Linked DNA regions of Homo sapiens: region 1 is linked to region 2. Evidence: fine-mapped expression QTL. Tissue or cell type: whole blood. Region 2 holds a variant in brackets; the other region holds the start of a gene. All regions are shown on one strand. Distances are from middle to middle. Region 1 holds the start of NCF2 (neutrophil cytosolic factor 2). Region 2 overlaps NCF2 (neutrophil cytosolic factor 2).

Region 1 (11,230 bases), 28 kb before region 2:
CGGAGTTTTGAACACATGTAAAAGAGATCCCTGGCTCTATGACTAGATTGCATTTAGTGAATGGGTACTCTAGACGAAAAATGCAGGACTGAAAAGGCCAACTGCATCCAAAAAGGGAAAGTTCCTAAGATATGCAGGACTAGAATCATGCCACATCAACCATATTTCTTTTTTACTTTTCAGATCAGCACATATTTATTAAGACTTTGATATAAGATGTTAGGTGCCAGTTCTGTGGAAAATGTAAAGAAATAGAAAGCCTGTTCCCTGCCCTCAAAGAACCTATTTATAGCTAGCTGGATAGATAAGGTAGAAAACAGATAATGTGATAGAGTGCTTGTGTTTTGGGGTTTGATCATAAAATGCTATAGGAATTCAGAGAAAAAAATTACTGAGACTAACTTACATCAGGGAAGACTTTACGTAGGATGTGAGTCTAAGCTGAGCTTTTACAGATGGACAGATGGACAGGATTTGGATCTGCAGAGAAATGTCAAAGGGCAATTTTTTTTTTTTTTTAAGATGGAGTCTCGCTCTGTAGCCCAGGCTGGAGTGCAGTGATGCAATGTCGGCTCACTGCAACTTCTGCCTGCCAGGTCCAAGAGAGTCTCCTACCTCAGCCTCCTGAGTACTATTTTTAGTACTATTTTTAGTAGAGACAGGGTTTCACCATGTTGGTCAGGCTGGTCTCCAACTCCTCACCTCGTGATCCGCCCACCTTGGCCTCTCAAAGTGCTGGGATTATAGGTGTGAGCCACTGTGCCTGGCCCAAAGGACAATTTATAGTGAGGATCCAGTGTATTTACTTGCTTCATTCAGGATTCAGATCTTTAATCTCTATGCATTCATTCATTTATTCATCAAACTTTTACTGAGTGACCACCTATGCAGGTACTAGACATTGTGTGTGTAAAGGGTACAAATATGAAAAAGAGTGCTTAATATGAGGTGTCTTTAAATGAATAGGCATTATACATTCCCTCATTTTCATCTAGGATGCTAGGACACATATATTTAGCCAAGCAAATTAAGTAATCACACTGACTTTAAAAGCACCTTCCATGGCATCGCTATTTAACAGATATGTTAAAAATCCACCATATCATGGGCACAAAAGATACAGTGGAAAAATCAGACACAGATCTTGTATTTTCGGGGCTTACAGTCTAGTTGAGAGACAGTCGTTTAAACAAGTAATTACAATCACATGTGCTTGAACACACATTAGGAGAGGTAGAGAGAAACCTCCTTGAGTGCACATGGCAGGAATAATTAATCTCACTGGTAAGTCAGGGAAGAAGACTGGAGCTGCTGAGGTGTGGCAGGTGGAATTCTAAGATGATCCCTGATGATCCTTGCCTTTGTGTAATCCCCTCCCCTTGAGTGGGAGAGACCTGTAACTTGCTTTTAATCAATAGAACATGGCAAAGGTGAAGGGATTTTTGCAGAGATGATTAACATCCCTAAGCAGTTGGCTTTAAATTAATCAAAAGGGAGAATATTCTGGGTGGGCCTGGCCTAATCAGGTGACTCCTTTAAGAGAAGGTCTAGAGGTAAGAGACTTAATGAAGCAGAGATTCTCTCTGCCTCCATTGCTGGCCTTGAAGAAGGAAGCTTTCATGAATTCTATAGCTACAGATGAATTCCACCAACAAACCAAGGGAGCTTGGCAGCAGATGCCGTCAAGTCTCCAGATGAGAAAGCAGCCTAGATAACACCTCGATCTCAGCCTTGTGAGACCCTGAGCACAGGGCCCAACTAAGCCGTGCCCAGACTCCTGACCCATGAAAACTGTGACATAGTACATGTGTGTTATTTTAAGCCATTAAGTTTGTGGTAATTTGTCATGCAGCAACGGAAAACCAACCCAACGACAGATTAGACAGGACTAACTTGCCTTCCTGGAGAAAGACGATTTCAAGCCCTGAGGCTTTCAATAGCATTGCTGAACAACAGGACCCCTGTTGACTTTTCTGTATCCTTCATGTGAGATCCAGGCCAAGTTTATATCTAATAAATGAGGTCTCCTCCCTGCCTCCTTCAGGGTTTCCTGTCTTGTACTCAATGAAACTATCTACTCAATGTTAGAGTTGACGGCAAAAAAGTGCGTTCTTTTCCCTACTAGTCTAAATGTACCTCACTTTATGCAACTAACATGATACTGACAAACTTTACAAAATTATATTTTTCCAAGTAGGATTCAGTTTTCTCATTTTTCAGTTCATTTAATTAATTAGCCAATGATCACGGAGCAGCTACTACGTGCTAAACATGGCGAAAGACTGAAGGACAGTGGAGAGTTGGCTCTATCCTTTGAGGAGCTTAAGAAAGAAGTCTCATGTACCAGAAAAAGTTAAAGAGCGATAGAACACTAAAATCTAAATGTAGGAATGAAAAAGTATTTCCTGAGTGCCCAGGAATAATGAGTTTTATTTTGATTTTACAGGCTTCTTCCTCAGAAAAAAAAAGGAGGGTCTTGGGAGTGTTCTTGGCTTCCAGCTGAATAAATACATGCAACAGTAGTTTGTAGTGTTAACCAATCATATGCAAATCTTGCTTATTTGGAATTTTGGAATAATTTTGAAAATATCGAGATGAAACTGAGTTACCCAACCAATGCCTCAACAAATTTTATTTAACAAGTAATGTTTATTGAACACCTGCTATATGCCAAGCCCTGTACTAGGTACCGAGAATCCAGTGGTGTGTGTGTCAGAACATTTTAAACCATAACTAATAGAAAACTTGATATGAATGACTTAAACAATAAACAAACTTATTATCTAACCAAACAAGAAATTCCAAGGTAGATCAGTTTCAGACTTGTAGAAAACGTTATTTTTATCTTTTAAGAGATGGAGTCTTGCTCAGTCACCTAGGCTGGAATGCAGTGGCGTGATCATCACTCACTGCAGCCTTTGAAGTCCTGAGCTCAAATGATCCTCCCACCTTAGCCTCCTGAGAAGCTGGGGCTACAGGCATGTGCCACCATGCCTGGCTAATTTTTAGTGTTTTTCTGTAGAGATGGGGTCTGGCTTCATTGCCCAGGCTGGTCTCTAACTCCTGACCTCAAGGGATCTTCCCACCTAAGTGTTGGGATTACAGATGTGAGCCATTGTGCCCAGCCAGATTTGCAGAAAACAGATAATGCAACACATCTCATCAGCATAACTAAGCATCTGAGCTCTTTGTAATTTTCCATTCTCTTTTCTTTCAGACAATGGCTTGTTCTTAGTTGTCTCCCCTCATGATTATAAGACAGCTGCCATATTCCAGACACATCTCACAATGCTGTCTAGTAGAGAAACAAGTGCTGTTTCTTCTCATGTGTTTTATTTTTTATCACTGGGGAAGAAATCTTTCCCAGAAATTCTTAGCAGACTTTCCCTCCTGAAGCGCATGGCTTCAGGAAACTGGAGGCTTGAACAGAACTGGGGTTCTACCAAAAGGAGGAAGGCGAATGGACAGTGGCTGAACAGACCGTCTACTAACAGCACCAAGTAATGATTAAATAGACTGCCCCTGCATTGAGGGACAGAAACAATGTCACAGATGACATACAGTTACAAACTGTAACAAATACATGATCAGAGAGAACCGTGCACATAGCAAGGTCATGGATCTAGAAAGGCCACTCATTGAGGAAGTGAAAGATGAGTAGGAACTAGCCAGGCAGGCTTGGGGGAAGAGTGTTACATGGGCGGAGGAAGAGGCTGGCTCATATGAAACCATGAAAGGAGGCCTGTGTAGCTGGAGTTCTTGGGAGAGGAGGAGGGGAAATGACCTGGAATGAGCACAGGGCAGCAGGCAGGGGGCTTCCTGCAGCATGGGAAGGAGTTCGGGTTATATCCTGAGAGCAGTGCAAAGCCATGGAAGGTTTAAAAACAGGGGCCATGAAGTGATCTGACTTGTGTTTTTAAAAGCTCAATCTGGATGGAGAGGCAAAGAAATGTTAAAAGACTATCATGTTCACCTGGGAGTTGATAGTGGCTTGGCCTGAGTGGTGACAGGAGAAGGGGAGGGAAAGTGGATGAAATGGAGCATGAATGGCTTTGCTAGTGCCCTGGGGGATACAAACATGGGTTAGCCCAGGACTTCCTCCTGAGGCACACTATTTGAGGTGCTAAGACTTGCATGCACATACATTGGTGAAGAGTGATTAAGGGCCACATGGGAGGTGCGGAGAAGGAGATGCAGGAGTTCAGAAGGCGAGATCATGGGTTTGAGCGCTTTCAGGCAGGACTGATTTCAGGGCAGTGTGTTAAGGAGAGTGCTATTTTAGCAGGCCTTCGAAGGCTATGCAAGGTGGGTTTGAAGGTGCAGACATGGGAGAGGGCAGCCTAGAAAGAGGAACTAGCACGAGTCGCACAGATGCAGGAATGAAGGCATAGCGGGAGAAGAGTAAGCAGCAGAGTTTGTATGGGATTGTGAAGGAAAGTTCTGGGGATAAGGCTAGAAAAGTCTTGGCAGTCAGATTAAGGAGAGTTCTGAGTGTCAGGGTGGGATAATAGGAGGGCAAAAACATTTTTTAAAAATGAAGTCTAATTTAGCTACAAATCCATTTGGTTTTCTCAGGAATAATTAATGTGCTATTCAAGTCCTGATTATTTATTCACTAGATGGAATAGCAATACCTCTTTCTGCCATCACTGCTACCTGCAGGTCATTTACCAATGATTTCTAATTTCTTTTAGAATGTATCCCTTCATCATGTATTGAGTATCTGTGCTAGAGATCCTAGAATGAAAAGGCATGGTCCCAACTTCCAAGGAGCCCATGAATTGAGCAGATAAAGAGATAAATTGCAGTAAGTATGATGCAAGTTTTTGGGTAAAGGTGGTACAAAGGAGAGGAAAATTCTCCTACTACCCAGAGTTCAGGGCTAGATTTAGCACAGTTGGTGACATTTAAACTGGGCTTTGAAAGATGAGTAGGAGTTTGCCAGGCAAAGAAGAGAGCTGGGAAGGCCTTGTAAACACAGGAAAACAATCTGGACAAAGACACACATGTCTTCTTAATTCTCACACCTTCAATCCTACAAGCACTGTGGAGTATACATTTTTAAGTTTTATTTTCAGGCTTTTAGGGGAAGCTTGGTGATAATGAGTGAATTCTTTCAGTTGCTACAAAACAAGAGTTTGCATCTAAGTATTTGACCCCCATAAACATGCATTTTACCTAAAAAGAAGCCTGGATTTTAGCAAGCCAAATTGGCTATACCCTTTACCCCCAGTTATTCCTCTGGGAGGTTTTACTGATTTTTACTTTTCTGGAAAAGCAAGGAAAGAACTCTTAAATCTGTTTTTTCAGAGACTAGTAAATCCATTAGTCATCAGTGCAGGACTTTCATCTCTTCAATTTTTCACTGGAAGATGGGAGAAGTCATAATTCACTGTCATGTGGCTCCCAATTTTGACATTTGCAGGAAATTGGTCCCCTCTGAACTTCATGAATGTTCATAAAAGTTATTTCGGCTGGGCACGGTGGCTCACTCCTGTAATCCCAGCACTTTGAGGGGAGGCCGAGGAGGCCGAATCACCTGAGGTCAGGAGTTCGAGACCATCAGCCTGGCCAACATGGTGAAACCCCATCTCTACTAAAAATACAAAAATTAGCAGGGCGTGGTGGCAGGCTTCTGTAATCCCAGCTACTCAGGAGGCTGAGGCAGGAGAATTGCTTGAACCCAGGAGGCAGAGGTTGCAATGAGCTGAGATCGTGTCACTGCATTCCAGCCTGGGCAACAAGAGTGAAACTCCGTCTCAAAAAAAAAAAAAAAAAAGTTATTTCAGGCCCAGATCAGATGGATCTCCAAAGATTATCCTGTCTCAAAAATTTGTTAATGATAATTTCAGCTCAAGATAAACACTAACATATTAATACAGCCTATGGGATTACAAAAAAGTGAGCAAGGAATTCATTCAAGACTGGAAAGAATTATCCTCTCATCTGACACTCCCATTTAACAAGGGTGTGGAAATCAAGGCCCAGTGACACAGGATTTTTTCTCCATCACTTTGTAAGCCAGGAACCTCTGGCTGGTGACACCCTGCCCAGGCCTCAGTGGGCCACACTACCTGCTGCAGGAGATGGCCTGCCCACTCGGCCTGGGTGGGGAGTTTTATTGAGTGATGAAAACAGCTTTCAGTGGAGAGGGGATGCAGGGGTGGTTCCCCTACCCAAAGGCAGGAAAGTCCCCCCAGTGCGGGTGAGTCTGGGGCTTTTATGGGCTCAGAATAGGGGAGGGGCAGGACATAGGTAGTACTGGAAAAGGCAACATTCAATTGGTTAAAAGGCATTAGTCAGAAATAATTAATTGGGAAAGAGCAGACAAACAGGAACAGAAGTTCTCACTCTAGGTCACGGGTTTCATTTGGGACCAGTAGCCTAGTCTTTCAGCCTTCAGGCTGTTTTTGGCTTGAAGGTGGGGTTTCACCAGGGACCTGCCCCTATCTGCCTAGGCATTTGGCTGCCTCCTGTCATTATCACCAGGGAGGTGCCTCTACCTGCCAAGGTTACCCTGGCTCTAGAAGCAGAACTTTGGCCAGAAGCTGCCACAGAACAGGGGTGGGAGAGAGAAGAGGAGCTGGGTGACAGAGCAGAAGCATTTTGGGGAACTGATCCTTCAGGCAGCAGCTGATGTACTTCCTCTCTCCTCCACACTCCACCCCTACTCGCCCTCTCTCTCTCTGCTTCTTTCCTTTTCTCTCTCATGGTAGGGTTATGAGTCAGTTGCCAAAAGGTGGGGACATTTCCTGATGCATTTGCAACACTGAGAAGTTATCTTAAGGGAGGCTGGGCCCCATTCTACTCATCTGGCCCAGAAAGTGAACACCTTGGGGGCCACTAAGGCAGCCCTGCTAGGGGAGACGCTCCAACCTGTCTTCTCTCTGTCTCCTGGCAGCTCTCTTGGCCTCCTAGTTTCTACCTAATCATGTCCCTGGTGGAGGCCATCAGCCTCTGGAATGAAGGGGTGCTGGCAGCGGACAAGAAGGACTGGAAGGGAGCCCTGGATGCCTTCAGTGCCGTCCAGGACCCCCACTCCCGGATTTGCTTCAACATTGGCTGCATGTACACTATCCTGAAGAACATGACTGAAGCAGAGAAGGTGAGTGGAGGTGCCTCTTTCCGGGCCTCCTCTGTGCATTTGTTATTATGATTCTCAACCCCATTGCATTTCGGAAACCTAACCTCTGGGGAGATTGAAAAGAACAAAAGTTGCCCAAGCTCCACCCCTAGACAGCCTGATTTAACTGGTCTGGGAGGGGCCCCAGGCAGCCAGTTTTAAAAGCTCTCCAGGTGGAGAGCAGGTGAGGGGCAGCCAGGGTTGCCTCTTTCTCCATCTTCTAAATTAAAATCATTCTACAAGTGTCTTTAACACCTTTGTGAAGGCTGTCCTAGTCGTACTTTCTTCTACACAGAACTCCTTCTGGGCACAGAATCTCTATCTATCCCAGCGCTTTACACCTGATTATTGATTCTAAGGCACCTCTTTTGGCTTTCCAAGACTTTCATGTGTGTCGACTTTGCCTGCTCAAGAGATTTAAGGGAGGCACTTACAAAAAATAGCTTTTATCCCAAGTGACAATTCTGATCAATTATAAAGGAGACTCTTTTAAAGATGCTGAGGCTGGCAAGAGGAAATTGTACTGTGATTGACTAGTGATGTCTGCTGGGGGCATGGTGTGGGATGTCTCGCATCTTTTTCGTTATGTTTTCTCACTCAAATACCATAGTATGGAGTTAAGCATTCTCGATAATTATTTTTTTGATTGGTTGTGGTAAGGTGGAAAGGGTATGGAGTTTGGAAGGAGAAGATCTAGGATCGAATCCTAGCCTCTGTCTCTCTCTGGACTTTTAGTCTTAAGCAAGCTATGTAGCCTATGTAGACATCTGGCTTTCAGCTTCCTGAGTTTCTAAATATCATGAAAATTAAGTGAGATGCCAAACTATTAATGTCTCGTGGAACTTCACACCACTGTATAAGAGTTAGTTATTATTTTTACCGATTACTGCCAGTCTTTGCAAGGTGTGGCAGTGGTTGACTCCCCAGGTCCCTTAAAGAATCAGTCCCTTCCACACTCCAACAGTAGGTAAACAAGCCTCAGCCACACCCTCCTGACAGGAAGACAGAGAAGTGACTGAAATGTTCTCACATAGCTTGACAAGTCAATCTCAGGCTCTAAGGCAGAGCATGGCAGGACCCCCCACCTCTGGCTGGAGGAAGGACATGGCCCCACCTCCTCTCAGGGGCCTGCTGAGGGGCTGAGTGAACAGCACCACACATTCTGAGGGCTGATGGACACAAAGTGCACATTGTCCAGGAGAAGAGATTGGCAGCTAGTCTGGGCACAGCTATGCCAGCAGGGACTGTAGCCTCCTGCCTTGGCCTGGATATGGGATCCTTGGCAAGGTTGTGTGGGCCACCACTCACTTCTCAGCTCCCAGGCCTTCAGGCCCACATGTCTCTGTTTCTCCTGGCATTCCTCTGCTTCTAGCCTTCTCATTCCTTCTGCCTTTCTTTGTTTTCCTGCTTGAGCCCTTCCTACTAGCATTTATATGCATTCTTATTCATTATCATTTTAATTGTATACTATTCATGTATAAGTTTGTATAGTAAACAAATATAACAATTTATATAATATTTTAATTATTTTCATTTGCAATAAATTTTATTATTTATTTAAACTGAATGTTCAATACATTCATAGGAATACAAGAAATGCAACAAGGGTTAAAATTTCATTATTACATTAGATATCATTTTTTCTTTCTTTTTTTTTTTTTTTGAGATGGAGTCTCACTCTGTCACCCAGGCTGGAGTGCAGTGGTGCAATCTCGGCTCACTGCAACCTCTGCCTCCTGGGTTCAAGTGATTCTCCTGCCTCAGCCTCCCAAGTAGCTGGGATTACAGGCATGCACCACCAAGCCCGTCTAATGATGTTTCATTTTTCAAAGAAGCTTCTCCTATTTCCCTATCTTTTTTATCTTCCACAGAGCAATAAATAGTAATTACTACTCTCCTGGACAAGGTGCTCTGTTGTGTTGGATAGGAATTGTATCTTTAAGTTTGACATCATTATCACCTCCAAAAACTCTACCTTCACTTCATAGCACAGTCTCGCTGCATTGTTTCACAGTAAAATTGTACTCTACTCAAACTAGGAGAACTCAAAGAAATTAGAGCAAACAGCAGTTAAATTCATATGAATGAAAGACAGAAGACCAAAGATTTTAAAGTACTGATTTAGTAACATAGTGTCTACTGGCTCAAAGCTTCTATCTAATCATATTAAATCATATTATTAAAACAGCGATAATAGAAATGAAAGCTACACTAATGAAAAAGGAACTTGGGAATGAGGTCATTAAATATAACTAACTATATTTTAAATATAGATATGTATTTTTTATTAGTATCAGGTAAATGTCTAAATTATCTATTCTGAATTCTAGTCTCAGAGAAGGTCAGAGACAGTTACAAAGAAGGCGCTTCATATTGTCAAGTCCATTTTTAAAATGATGAGCTCCTTTGGGAAAATGCTTTAGTGTTTCTTTTCTTCTAAGATTTCTGTTGGTGATAATCCATTAGTGTCTGCACCCTTATAGTCCACTTTGTCTTTATTTGTATCATTGGATTTTTTTTTTTTTTTTTTTTTTTTTTTTTTGAGACAGGGTGCCTTACTTTGTTGCCCAGGCTGGAGTGCAGTGGTGCCGTCACAGCTCACGGCAGTCTCCACCTCCTGGGCTTGAGCGATTGACCTACCTCAGTCCCCCAAGTAGCTGGGACCACAGGCATGTGCCACCACATCTGACTAATTTTTAAATTTTTCGTAGAGATGGAGTCTCACTATTTTGCCCAGGTTGGTCTTGAACTCCTGGGCTCAAGTGATCCACCTGCCTTGGCCTCCCAAAGTGCTGGGATTACAGGTGTGAGCAACCGCACCTGGGAATTATTGGATTCTTGTGTAGCTTTTCTAGGCCATATATGACTAACAAAAGCAGAAATCAGATGGTATATGTATGGCTCCAGGAATGTTTTGTAGATCCACAGCAGAACTGGAATGACAATACAAGGAATGCACACCATTGTCCCAGACTTCAGCTTCTAAATGTGAGAGCGAAGTGGGGTGCACCGTGAGAGCACAGGGTGGGCCTCGAGGTGCCGACGAGGGCAGACAGCAGAGCTGGGCACCACAGGGAGCTAGGGCTCTGTGAGCCGTGGCTCATCTCACACCTCCTCACTGCCTTGCATCATGGCCATGTCTGGACCCTTCTCTCCTCAGGCCTTTACCAGAAGCATTAACCGAGACAAGCACTTGGCAGTGGCTTACTTCCAACGAGGGATGCTCTACTACCAGACAGAGAAGTAAGTGGTTCAATGTTGCACCAACTGGAGGATTTCAGAGAGAAACCCAAGGGGTCTCAGTGTTGCGGGCTTGGTGTTTGAGCAGTACCTTCCCAACCTCTGTTGGGAAATGTGACTGGCCCTTCTGGGGACAGTTATGCAATAAATCAGCAGGTGAGGCAGAAGCTCTCACTGGGGAGGCAAGGCAGGTCTGCCACCAGATTATAAATCAGCTGTGTCATAGGCACAATGAGCCTAGGTAACCACCATGGGCCTGATACTCAGCTGGTGTGACACCCCACCAGTGTCCCTGATGGGGTCACCCATGTAGGTCTCCTATGAGGTACTGAGCTGTCACAGAATGGGGATGATCATGAAACTGCATCAAAACCTGGCTTCATCCCAGCAAAATGCATTTCCAAAACCTGGTTTAATCCATTTGAGGAAATATACTTCAGCTGCAAAAATGATAATACAAATTAACATTATATGTATAAGAATAAATTACTACAGATAAGTAAGTAGCGTATGCACTTATACAGAAAAAGTTTGCAGTAGATGTTAATTTTTTTTCTTTTTCCGAGACAGAGTTTCACTCTTGTTGCCCAGGCTGGAGTGCAAGGGCTCGATCTCAGCTCACCGCAGCCTCCGCCTCCCAGGCTCAAGCGATTCTCCTGGCTTACCCTCCCGAGTAGCTGGGACTACAGGCATGCGCCACCACACCCAGCTAATTTTGTATTTTTAGTAGAGATGGGGTTTCTCCATGTTGGTCAGGCTGGTCTTGAACTCCCGACCTCAGGTGATCTGCCCACCTCAGCCCCCCAAAGTGCTGGGATTACAGGCATGTGCCACCACGCCCAGCCAGATGTTAAATTTAAAAACAGA
Region 2 (11,230 bases):
ACTCCATCTCAAAAAAAATTTTTTTTAAATTAATTTAAAAATACTCAGAAGTGTCATGTGACATAGTAGACATTAATTACAGAACAGAGCTTTTGGAAACTGTCCTGGGAAAAGGACAGAGCTCAAGGTCAAAGCATTCTTGTGACACCATGTTGCTGTGTGACTGCTAACCTCCAGAAACTAGCTCTGGCTCAAAATGAATTGCTGTGCTAGTGAAACCTGTACCTGGGGAGCTGGTGGGAGGTGTTATTTCCCAGTGTTTAGTCAGGGTGACTGTGCCCTCTTCCTAGACAGTGTTCTCATCAGTCAGAAATGCGTTATTTGATTTTCTGGTCTGGAAGAATGCTCAAATTACCATTAGCCGTTTGTTGTCTCTCCCCTGCTTTCCCTCATTGCCTTTTCCGTTTTCACTTCTCCTGAATGTTCAATAGGCAGCTGAGCCTCCACCCAGACCGAAAACCCCAGAGATCTTCAGGTAAGTTAGATTCAAATCCATAAATAGAATATCCAAGCGCCAAGCCTGAGCTGATGGCAAGAAAGGGAGGGAAGAAGATGAAGGTGGGGTCAGGGTCTAAATCTTGTTGAATTTTCTGGAATGTCAGGCTTCTTCTAGAATGTCAGGCTAGAAAGGAATGCCTAGAAGAATGTCTTCTAGAATGTCAGGCTAGAAAGGAATGATATGATGGGGATGGGAGTCTTGACTGTGGTGGGGCTGGCCATCAGGGCTTGGCTGCAGCTACGTGGTGTCCCATTGGCCCTCTGTCCACGTGCACAGCCACCCACATGGCAAGGGGTTGTTGCTGAGGGGCAGTGGTGTTCTGTGGAACATAGCTACCCTGGGGACCAGGATGCTGACCTCAGGTTGGAGATCGGTTTCGCACTGGCTGCAGTCCCCTCTGACGGGGGCAGGCCAGAGCTCTCTGGAGTCAGGAATCTAGAATGACGTCCTTTTTCCTGTGTGGATGTTTTCCACTCCCTATCGGCACATGCTTTCTGAAGAAGTAAAGAGGAAGGACTGAAGAAAAGGAAGTCCTTCTTCTGTAAGATGAAAAACAAAGGGTGACATAACCTACAGCTTTCTTAAGAATTCTCTCAAAGTGATGAAGCAAGCCTGGTCCTCCCACCCAAAAAGGAGGTTTTAAAAAGTGATTGGCCAGGTGTGTGGCTCATGCCTGAAATCACAGCACTTTGGGAGACTGAGGTGGGCGGATCACTTGAGATCAGGAGTTCGAGACCAGCCGGGCCAACGTGGCAAAACCCCATGTCTACTAAACATGAAAAAATTAGCTGAGTGTGGTGACTGACATGTGCCTGTAATACCAGCTACTTGGGAGGCTGAGGCAGGAGGCTCACTTGCACTCAGGAGGTGGAGGTTGCAGTGAACCAAGATCATGTCACTGCACTCCAGCCTGGGCAACAGACCAAGATTCCGTCTCAAAAAAAAAAAAGTGACAAAAGTACCAAAGCAACTACAAAAATGAGGGGGCTGGATGAGCTCATTCCTAAGCTCCCTGTCAGCTGGAAGGGCCTGTATTCCCTACAGGAGTAGGCACGATGTCTGGAAACAAGGATGGGCCGAGGGGAAAGTAACAGAGTGGGGAGTAAAGGGAGGGAAGCCTGAAACCTGAACACCAGCCTCTCAGTCACACGTTCCAAAGTGATGCCAATCAGAGCCTCAAAGCCTAAAAGCATGAAGTCAGACTTAAGGGAACCGACACTGCACCACGGCAGCTGGGCAGCCTCAGAGCCCTCTATGTGCATCCCTCACGCTCCCTGTCACCTACCCTGCTCACGGTCTCTCTATCCTGGCCCAACACTGGTTCTAGGTGGTTTCTCCTTCCTCCTCTCCCACCAATCTTTCTGGCCCAGCTGGCTCTCACCTGACTTCTGCTTTGTGCTGTTCCCCTGACCACAGTCACCTGATCCACCCCACCCCAGCCCAGCCTTGGGTGCTGGCCAAGATGACACAGCCAGGGACCTTCCTCCTCAGAGCAGAAGGGAGGGCAAGGATTGTAAGTCCTCACTATCTAGTGTTGTGGGGTTTTTGCTTTATTCTTGCCCCTCTGCATATATGGTTATGAGCAGGTGTACACCAGTTTCTTGCTGAGACCTCTTGGGAGCCCAGGCAGGCTCAGTGTCATCTCGGCAGTTGCAGTTAGATGTGGAGTTAGAGCCAGGCTGGAGCCAAGTCCCTGGCTCCAAGTTCAGTGTATTTGCGCCATGGCATCATGTGAGGGGATGGGGGCTGGATCTTGTGTCTATCCTCTGCAGGGCTCTGGAAGGGGAGGCTCACCGTGTGCTATTTGGGTTTGTGCCTGAGACAAAAGAAGAGCTCCAGGTCATGCCAGGGAACATTGTCTTTGTCTTGAAGAAGGGCAATGATAACTGGGCCACGGTCATGTTCAACGGGCAGGTATGCAGAGGATCAGGGGCTGGTGCGATGGGCATGGGATCCTGGCAGCAAATGCAGTCTCTGTGGAGCAGTATCTGCTGCCTTCTTTGCAGACCAGCCAAGTTCTTTTGTCTGTTCGTCATCCCTTCCCCAGGACTCTGGGCTGTTCTGTGGTGTGGGTACTGATGAGCACATCTTTATTTTTTCCTTTCTGATTCTGTGGTGCTGCACTGCAGAAGGGGCTTGTTCCCTGCAACTACCTTGAACCAGTTGAGCTGCGGATCCACCCTCAGCAGCAGCCCCAGGTAATGTGATGCCAAGGCCTGACCCATTTCCTCTCACCCTTTAGGGATCTCTCCCTGGAGGGGAGAAAAGCAGTGTAAAAGAGGTGTTGTCAGGACCCCTGGAGAAAGATTCACTAGTCTTGAGCCCGCCTTGAGATGGCACCAGCTACCCAGAGCTGAACCTGGGAATGAGGGGAAAAAAGCCCAGATGTGCTAAGTTGGAGGCATCTGTAGGTCCCATTGGGCCCACCCACCTCTGTGACTCTTCCTGGTCAGAAGTCACTTGGGAAGCAAAGCCTACAGTATATGAGTGGGTTAGGTCTTCCCAAGTGTGTCTGCTTCACGTGGAAGAGTAGTCAATGTGTTGGCTGGTACAATGCCATTAGAAAGAAAATGAGGCCAGCTGCAGTTGCTCATGGCTGTAATCCTAGCACTTTGGAAGGCTGAGGTGAGAGGATCACTTGAACTCAGGAGTTCGAGACCAGCCTGGGCAAAATAGAGAGATGCCACCTCTATACAAATAAAAATAATAAAATGAGATCTGCCTTAGAGCTTTGAATCAGAGTGGGCCTTGCCAGCCACTGCTTCTAAACTGCTGCTACTCCCTCCCTCACACTTCAAAAGTCTGTCCTTCTGCCAGGCCTAGAGAGCTGTCTTTGTCAGATCTGAGCATCCCTGTAAGTGACTCAATGGCAGTGGAGACTGTCTGTCTCTAGACTGTGCAACCAGTTGTATATGAGCTCAGCCCTCCCTGGTCAGTCACCATATCCAAATGCTTTGAAAAGCTTCAAATGCCTTGCAAATGAGAAGTGGAATTTTTCCTTTCTCAATGCCCTCTGCAGTGGAGACAAGAGCTCAGTCCTGCCCCACGGCCAGTGGATTTCCAATATGGCTGAAAGAGTTGCTAAAGCGGCAAGGGCGTTTTAGCGGGTTAGGATTCTTCTTTCTACTGTGATTTTCATTTTCATCAGGCCAACTCCACCTCCTCTTTTGGCCAACATTTCCTTCGTCTTCCCCAAATGTCACTACCATTCCAACTTTTAGGACGTTATCTGCATGTGGCTCCTTTACATGGGGTCTCTGTAGGGGTGTTTCCCCACATCCACCCCTGCCTGGGAACTTTGAATGAAGGTTCTGACCGTCGCTCCCTGTTGCCTTCAGGAGGAAAGCTCTCCGCAGTCCGACATCCCAGCTCCTCCTAGTTCCAAAGCCCCTGGAAGACCCCAGCTGTCACCAGGTGAGTGGTCCTGGAGCCACAGCCTAGGTCTGGGTGCAGCAGCATGCCAGGCTGCTTCCTGAGTTCCTCTCCCTGCCTTCCAGGAAATTCTGGTTTCTTCTTCTCCCAACATGTCACTCAGCTAATGACCACGCAGCCCCAGAATCCCCCTTTCCTGCACCACCCACCCCAAACATGAAATCAGTGCCCTCTCTCCCTGCCTTCTGCAGAACACTCACGGGGCTTGGGTGAATGCAGCTGGTTCCTGAGTGACTCACGTAGTCACCAAACCCCTTGATCATTAGGTAGGGAAACGATGTCTCAGGAAGAAAAGTTGAAGTAACTATACCTGCTTATCTCTGAGGGGCATGGAGTGGCTGTTTTCAAATGTCTGAGGCACTGTATCTGGAAAAGAAATTGCTCTGTGGAGCCCTGAGGATGAACAAAGAACCAATGGGCAGATGTGAAATGGAAATGTTCTCTCTGAAAGGCTGTTTCCTAGTGTGGAGAGGGCTGTCTTGGGAAGTGCACTTGAAGCAGATTCTGGATAAGCGCTTGGTAGAGACGCAGAGTGAGTGGTTGGCCAGATTCTAGATCAATGATTGCCACACGCGCCTGATCATCAGAATCACTCGGGATGTCCCTTCCCCCATTTTTATTTTGAAAAATGTCCAACCTACAGAAAAGCTGACAGTAGAATACAATAAACATCAGAATATCTTTCACTTAAACTCACCAATTGTTAACATTTTGCACCATGAACTCGCCCTGCTCCATTCTATTTTTCTCCCCCGAGCCAGTTGAAAAGTTACAGACTCGTGACACTTCACCCTACACAGCTGCAAAAACGCAGTCTCCTGCATAATCACAATAGAATCATGGTATCTAGGACACTAAACATTCATATGATAGTATTATATAATGTATATTCCATATTCAAATTTCTCCCGTTGCTCCTGCTCAATGTCCTTGACAGGTTTTTTGTTGTTATCTTTTGTCTAGAGGCTCATCAAGGATCACATATAAACCTAGGATGATTTTGTGAATACAGAGTCCTAGGCTACTGGCTCTGATATTTTAGGACTGGAATGGGGCTCGGGAATTTGTATTTTAGAAAAAAACTTCCCATGTGATTCTAATGATCAGCTAGGTTTGAGATCAGTGGCCTTCTCTGATCATGTACCCCCTATAGTAAATATCTTTATGCATGCTACTCTTACATAAATTAGATTAATATTAGATTGCTTGATTAATAGATTAGATTAAATTAATAAACTTTAGGAAACATACACAAAAATAAAGAATAAGGTGAGGATCAGTGGTTCTAATACTTCTTCCTGTGGCCTCTGGCTCACCTTGCACTCCGATTTTCATTGCTTTGGATCCCGTGGGCTTAATTGACCTTTGGGATCCCTGCTAACCTTGTGGGTTGGTGAGGATATGCTGGTCCTTTGGTAATTACCTATAGGCTCCCTAGAAGCAGAGACTGAGTTTGTTCATGTGTTCATGACCTTCATGCTTCCCCAGGGCGAGATTTTCCCCACAGTTTACTAAGGTTAATAATTGCCCCACAAATTAAAGGGTAAGAGGTTGGGGGCCCTATTTGAAGAGGTTTCATCTGTGTGTGGCAGGGGCTGGCCAAGGATGTTCATTCACCATCTTCTTTTGTTTTACTCCCTACTTTTTCCATTCAGGCCAGAAACAAAAAGAAGAGCCTAAGGTAACATTTTTCCCTCATACTGTTTCAAGTGGTAGAAGATGGGATAGCTTGGGCTATCAACCACAGACATGTCTGTCTGGATTATAGGAAGAGCCCCAAAGGGAGGGTCGAACCAGTTGCTACCTTACAGAGTCCATGAGCTAGGGACCTTCTTAATAGCCTCCTCCACTATCATGCACACACTTCCTACTACCCAAGCTAGTGGGCCAGATCTTACTCAGTAGGAATTCCTGTCCAAGCAAGGGTTGGGCTAAAGGACCTCTGAAGGCCTTTTAGGCTACTGTGAAACCAGTTACTTACTGGCCTCTCCCCTGCTGTATTGGGTACCCCCTGTGCCAAATCACGAAACTGCGGTGATCCAGGATGTTGAGAGAAAGCCTCAGACACTCAGGAGTTCCCTTTGTTTCCTCCCCACTCAGGAAGTGAAGCTCAGTGTTCCCATGCCCTACACACTCAAGGTGCACTACAAGTACACGGTAGTCATGAAGACTCAGCCCGGGCTCCCCTACAGCCAGGTCCGGGACATGGTGTCTAAGAAACTGGAGCTCCGGCTGGAACA[C/A]ACTAAGCTGAGGTGAGCTCCATGCAGGCAGCTGTGAGGGGTACAGTGGGAACCTTGTGCTGGCCTGGAGGAGGGAAGAGGAGGATGGTTTTTGTGATGATGTTCTTTGACTGGATTCTTACTCATTATCCCCACCCAGCTATCGGCCTCGGGACAGCAATGAGCTGGTGCCCCTTTCAGAAGACAGCATGAAGGATGCCTGGGGCCAGGTGAAAAACTACTGCCTGACTCTGTGGTGTGAGAACACAGTGGTGAGTGCAATGAGGGGCATCTAAAGTTACATTTCCACTGAGCCACTTCCTCAACAATTTGAAATTTATCAAGCACCTTCTGTGTACTAGGCACTATATGTGGTGTTGGGGATATGGTGTGTAATAAGTCACAGCTCTGCCTCCCTTTTACCTGCATCCTCACCCCATTTGCAGCAGGGAGAGAGTTTCCCACAAGAGAACAGCAGGCCCAGCAGGGCAGGAGCTCACAGAAAGCCTCCTGCCCCTCCATCAGCTCCCTGCCTGACTGTGTCAAACATCCCATCCATTACTGTCAAGCAAGGTTGGAATGAAGTCATATCATAGCTTAAGGCTCAGCTCATAGCCATTCTTCACCTTTTTTTTTTTTTTTTGAGATGGAGTCTCACTCTGTCGCCCAAGCTGGGTGTGATCTTGGCTCACTGAAACCTCTGCCGCCCAGGTTCAAGAAATTCTCCTGCCTCAGCCTCCTGAGTAGCTGGGATTACAGGCACCTGCCACTGCACCCAGCTAATTTTTGTATTTTTAGTAGAGACGGGGTTTCACCATCTTGGCCAGGCTGGTTTTGAACTCCTGACCTTGTGATCCACCTGCCTCGGCCTCCCAAAGTGCTGGGATTACAGACATGAGCTGGGAGAAGAAGAGTGAAAGAGAATGAGCCTAGAAAAGGGCAGTGTATAAAGCTGTTTAAGGTATCTTCCCCGTTCAGAAAATTGCCTTCAGGAAATACAGCCACTGGGGATGAGACTCCCTGGTGTCTCTGGCTGAGACAAAAGGCCCCAGGATCCTGGGGGTAAGAGTGAGTGTGAGTGTAAGGGGTCTCTTGGAAGTCTGAAAAGTCACTCTAGGTTTTCCAGCTGTCTGTCTTTGGACTAACCCCTTCAGCATCTTTTTTAAAAGATTCTTCCTAGAAGGAGTTCTGCTCTAAATGTGAACTACTTCACTTAAACTTTTTTTTAATTAAAATTTTTTCCTTTGACAGCAGCTTCAATCTATTTGGTGGCTGCACATAGCCAACCCTCTTACAACTCCCCACAATCTTTTGCAATTTAATCCAGGCTCAGGAGTCACTGTTGAATGTTCTTTATCACTATCCATTACTTTTGGAGGCAACAAAGCAGGCTTTCACTTACTAGGAGAAAGAAAACCAGGCGCAGTGGCTCATGCCTGTAATTCCAACACTTTGGGAGGCTGAGGCAACATGGTGAAACCCCATCTCTACTGAAAATACAAAAATTAGCTGGGTGTGGTGGTGTGCACCTGTAGTCCCAGCTACTTGGGAGGCTGAGGCAGAATTGCTTGAACCCAGGAGGCGGAGGTTACAGTGAGCTGATATCATACCACTGCACTCCAGTCTGGGTGACAGAGAGATTCTGCCTCAAAAAAAAAAAAAAAAAAAAAAAAAAAAAAAAAAAAAAGAGGCCTGGTATGGTTTATGCCTGAAATCCTAGCACTTTGGGAGGCCGAGATGGGCCAGATCACCTGAGGTCAGGAGTTTAAGACCAGCCTGGCCAACATGGTGAAACCCCATCTGTACTAAAAATACAAAAAAAAAAGAAAAGAAAAGAAAGAAAAATAAAATGAACTAACATTTATTAAGCATCTACTCTATGCAGGAACACTTACCATTAACCAAGTCTAAATATTTATACATATTTAGAAGAGTACTGCCACAGAGTAAGTGTTCAATAAATGTCAACTACTATTATTGTATGTCATCTCATTGAATTCTTCTAGCCTCAATTTCAGGTGAGGTAACTGAGGTTCTGAGAAGTTACACTGCTTGCTTAGGGACACAGAGCTGGTAAGCAGTGGAGGTGGGATACAAACCTTTCTCTGTGGACTCTCTAGGGCCATTTCCACCTCATTGTATTGCCTCTCAATAAAAATATACCAACGTTCAACAAACAACATTAAGAAGCTAGAACTTATAATGCTCGGTACATACAAGCCTAGCAGCATTTCTAATGTTGATTTGTTAAATTCTATGATTCACATCTGTAGAAACCGCATCCTTCTCCTTCATTTGTGAAGCAAAAGTGACAATAATGTGGAAGAAGTCTAAGATCATAAGTCTAAGATGTATAAGAAATGTTGTTACAGATAAAACAAGTATGGCATTGTGCAGTGGTTTTTGAACTTTAGCAAGTATCAGAATTCCCTAGAGGACTTAAAATACAGATTGCAGGATTCACCTTCAGGGAGTTTCTGATTTAGTAGTTTTGGGATGGAGTTGAAAGTCTGCATTTCTAACAAGGTCCCTAGTGTTGCTGTTAGAGTTGATGCTAAGAAAGCCAGTTTTGACTTAGGGCTCTGTCCCCATCTGTAAAGAAATAATAATGCCCATTCTACCTGTCTCAAGATTATTGTAAGGTTTCAGTAAGATATTTTAAGACTGTATATGATTTTGCAGACCTTTTGGTTTCATTTATCCCAGGGGTCCCCAACCTCCAGGCCACGGGCCAGCACAGGGCTGCACAGCAGGTGAGCTGCAGGTATACTGGCCTGAGCTCTGCCTCCTGTCAGATCAGCAGCAGCATTAGATTCTCATAGGAGTGTGAACCCTATTGTGAACTGTGCATGCAAGGGATCTAGGTCGCATGCTCTTTATGAGAATCTAATGCCTGACGATCTGAGGTGGAACAATTTTATCCTGAAACCACCCCCCAACCCACCACCCACCACCATTCATCTAAAAACTGTCTTCCATGAAACTGGTCCCTCGTGCCAAAAAGGTTGGGGACTGATTTACCCAACCATCCAGTATTCATAAAGAGCATATAAGCTCTACACAAGGCACTGATCACAAACTTTATGAGTTTATATCCCAGGTTCTACTTTGACATTTCGCTGTTTCCTTTAGTGATGTTCAGTGTTCACTTGGCAGGAAATTGGGAAAATTAACAGGCCCTTTATTATTTCAGGGTGACCAAGGCTTTCCAGATGAACCCAAGGAAAGTGAAAAAGCTGATGCTAATAACCAGACAACAGAACCTCAGCTTAAGAAAGGCAGCCAAGTGGAGGCACTCTTCAGTTATGAGGCTACCCAACCAGAGGACCTGGAGTTTCAGGAAGGGGATATAATCCTGGTGTTATCAAAGGGTAAGTGCTACTCCAAGACTATAGAAACAAATTTACATGTTAGCAGAAACAAGGTCAAGGGCAGAGAGAAGAAAATATCAATAATCTACAAACAAAACTTTAGCCAGTGTTTTCAACCCCCTTCCTAGCATCTAGCTGGAGGGAGCAAAGTTGAGCACTCAGACTTTCCCTGTCTATTGCTCTAGTAGCCAGGAAAGCAACAAGAAGCTGAGTTGTTTTGTTTTTGTTTTTGTTTTTGAGACAGAGTCCCCCTCTGTTGCCCAGGCTGGAGTGCAGTGGCACAATCTCGGCTCACTGCAACCTCCCCCTCCTGGGTTCAAGCAATTCTCCTGCCTCAGCCTCCTGAGTAGCTAGGATTACAGGCGCCCACCACCATGCCTAGCTAATTTTTGTGTATTTAGTAGAGATGGGGTTTTGCCATGTTGACCAGGCTGGTCTCAAACTCCTGGCCTCAAGTGATCCAACTGCCTCGGCCTCCTAAAGTACTGAGATTACAGGCATGAGCCACCGCACCTGGCCGGCGATAAACATCTTGATTATTAAAGAGGAGTATGCTTTGGAAACCATGGATTCTCATTCCCAGAGGTAACAAATTGGGCTGGAATCACTTTGCCTTTGCATCAAGCTGTATGACCTTCTGCAAACCATAGTTCTTTGAATTAATGTACTTTTCAAAGAGAAAAGTAGGTAAATTTTGCCTTAAAAACCAGCTATTCAGAACTATCCTGTGTCTCTGGTGACTTTCTTGATTCTGTTTGTAATGAACAGACTAAAAATTGAAACAGCATGCCTGTAATCCTAGCCACTAGGGAGGCTGAGGTAGGAGGATCACTTGAGGCCAGGAGTTCAAGGCTGTTGCCTGGGCAACACAGCAAGACCCACCTCTTAAAAGTGGAGAGTTCTAAGAATCCCTGGAAGAGTTTGTTAAATCAATTCCTGGGCCCACCCTCCAGAGATTCTGATTCAGGTCTGGGGTGGGGCCCACCAACTTGCATTTCTACCAAGTTTCCAGGTGATGCTGGTCTACTGCCTACACTCTTAAGAAGCACCATTCCAACTCGTGGTTTGCCAGCCTAATTCTCTACCTCGACACAAAAAAGTCCCATCATAAAAGCCCTGCTCATACGCTGAGTCTGTGCACTACCAATGCAAAGCAGTGAAAAACTACCATCAATTATAACAGAAAATCCAACAGACAAAGAGAGGGGGAAATTTTAAAGTTAATGAGGGTAGGCTGGGCCTGGTGGCTCACACCTGTAATCCCAGCACTTTGGGAGGCTGAGGTGGTGGATCACTTGAGGCCAGGAGTTGAAGACCAACCTGGCCAACATGGTGAAACCCCATCTCTACTAAAAATGTAAAAATTAGCTGGGCGTGGTGATGCACATCTGTAGTCCCAGCTGCTAGGGAGGCTGAGGCAAGAGAATCGCTTGAACCCGGGAGTGGAGGTTGCAGTGAGCCGAGATTGCACCACTGCCCTCCAGCCTGGGTGACAGAGCGAGACTCTGTCTTAAAAAAAATAAAAATAGGCCGGGTGCAGTGGATTATGCCTGTAATCCCAGCACCTTGGGAGGTCAATGTGGGCTGACTGCTTGAGGTCAGGAGTTCAAGACCAGCCTGGCCAACATGGTGAAACTCTGTCTCTGCTACAAATACAAAAATTAGCCGGGTATAGTGGTAGGTGCTTGTAATCCCAGCTATTCAGGAGG

What was found. PIP is the estimated chance that this variant, and not a neighbour inherited with it, causes the effect. A credible set is the group of variants that fine-mapping cannot tell apart.
Region 1: NCF2 starts here. The variant in region 2 is the best candidate, but not a certain one, in a credible set for the expression of NCF2 in whole blood (INTERVAL, PIP 0.86).

Annotation. Positions count from the first base shown.
Region 1 is chr1:183,586,031-183,597,260 of GRCh38, reverse strand. NCF2 (neutrophil cytosolic factor 2) reads left to right here and starts at 6,802. Exons shown (of 15, transcript NM_000433.4): 1 at 6,802-7,105; 2 at 10,284-10,366. The coding sequence starts at 6,932. It also overlaps the pseudogene C18orf32P1. RefSeq lists enhancers at 3,393-3,452, 6,073-6,412, 6,523-6,782.
Region 2 is chr1:183,558,387-183,569,616 of GRCh38, reverse strand. It overlaps NCF2 (neutrophil cytosolic factor 2), which reads left to right. Exons shown (of 15, transcript NM_000433.4): 7 at 432-475; 8 at 2,272-2,413; 9 at 2,629-2,697; 10 at 3,838-3,913; 11 at 5,587-5,612; 12 at 6,032-6,183; 13 at 6,311-6,422; 14 at 9,344-9,521. Among named protein-coding and RNA genes, the nearest start is that of NCF2, 26 kb to the left of the region's middle. RefSeq lists an enhancer at 1,815-1,874. The variant C/A (reference allele first, on the strand shown) is at 6,172.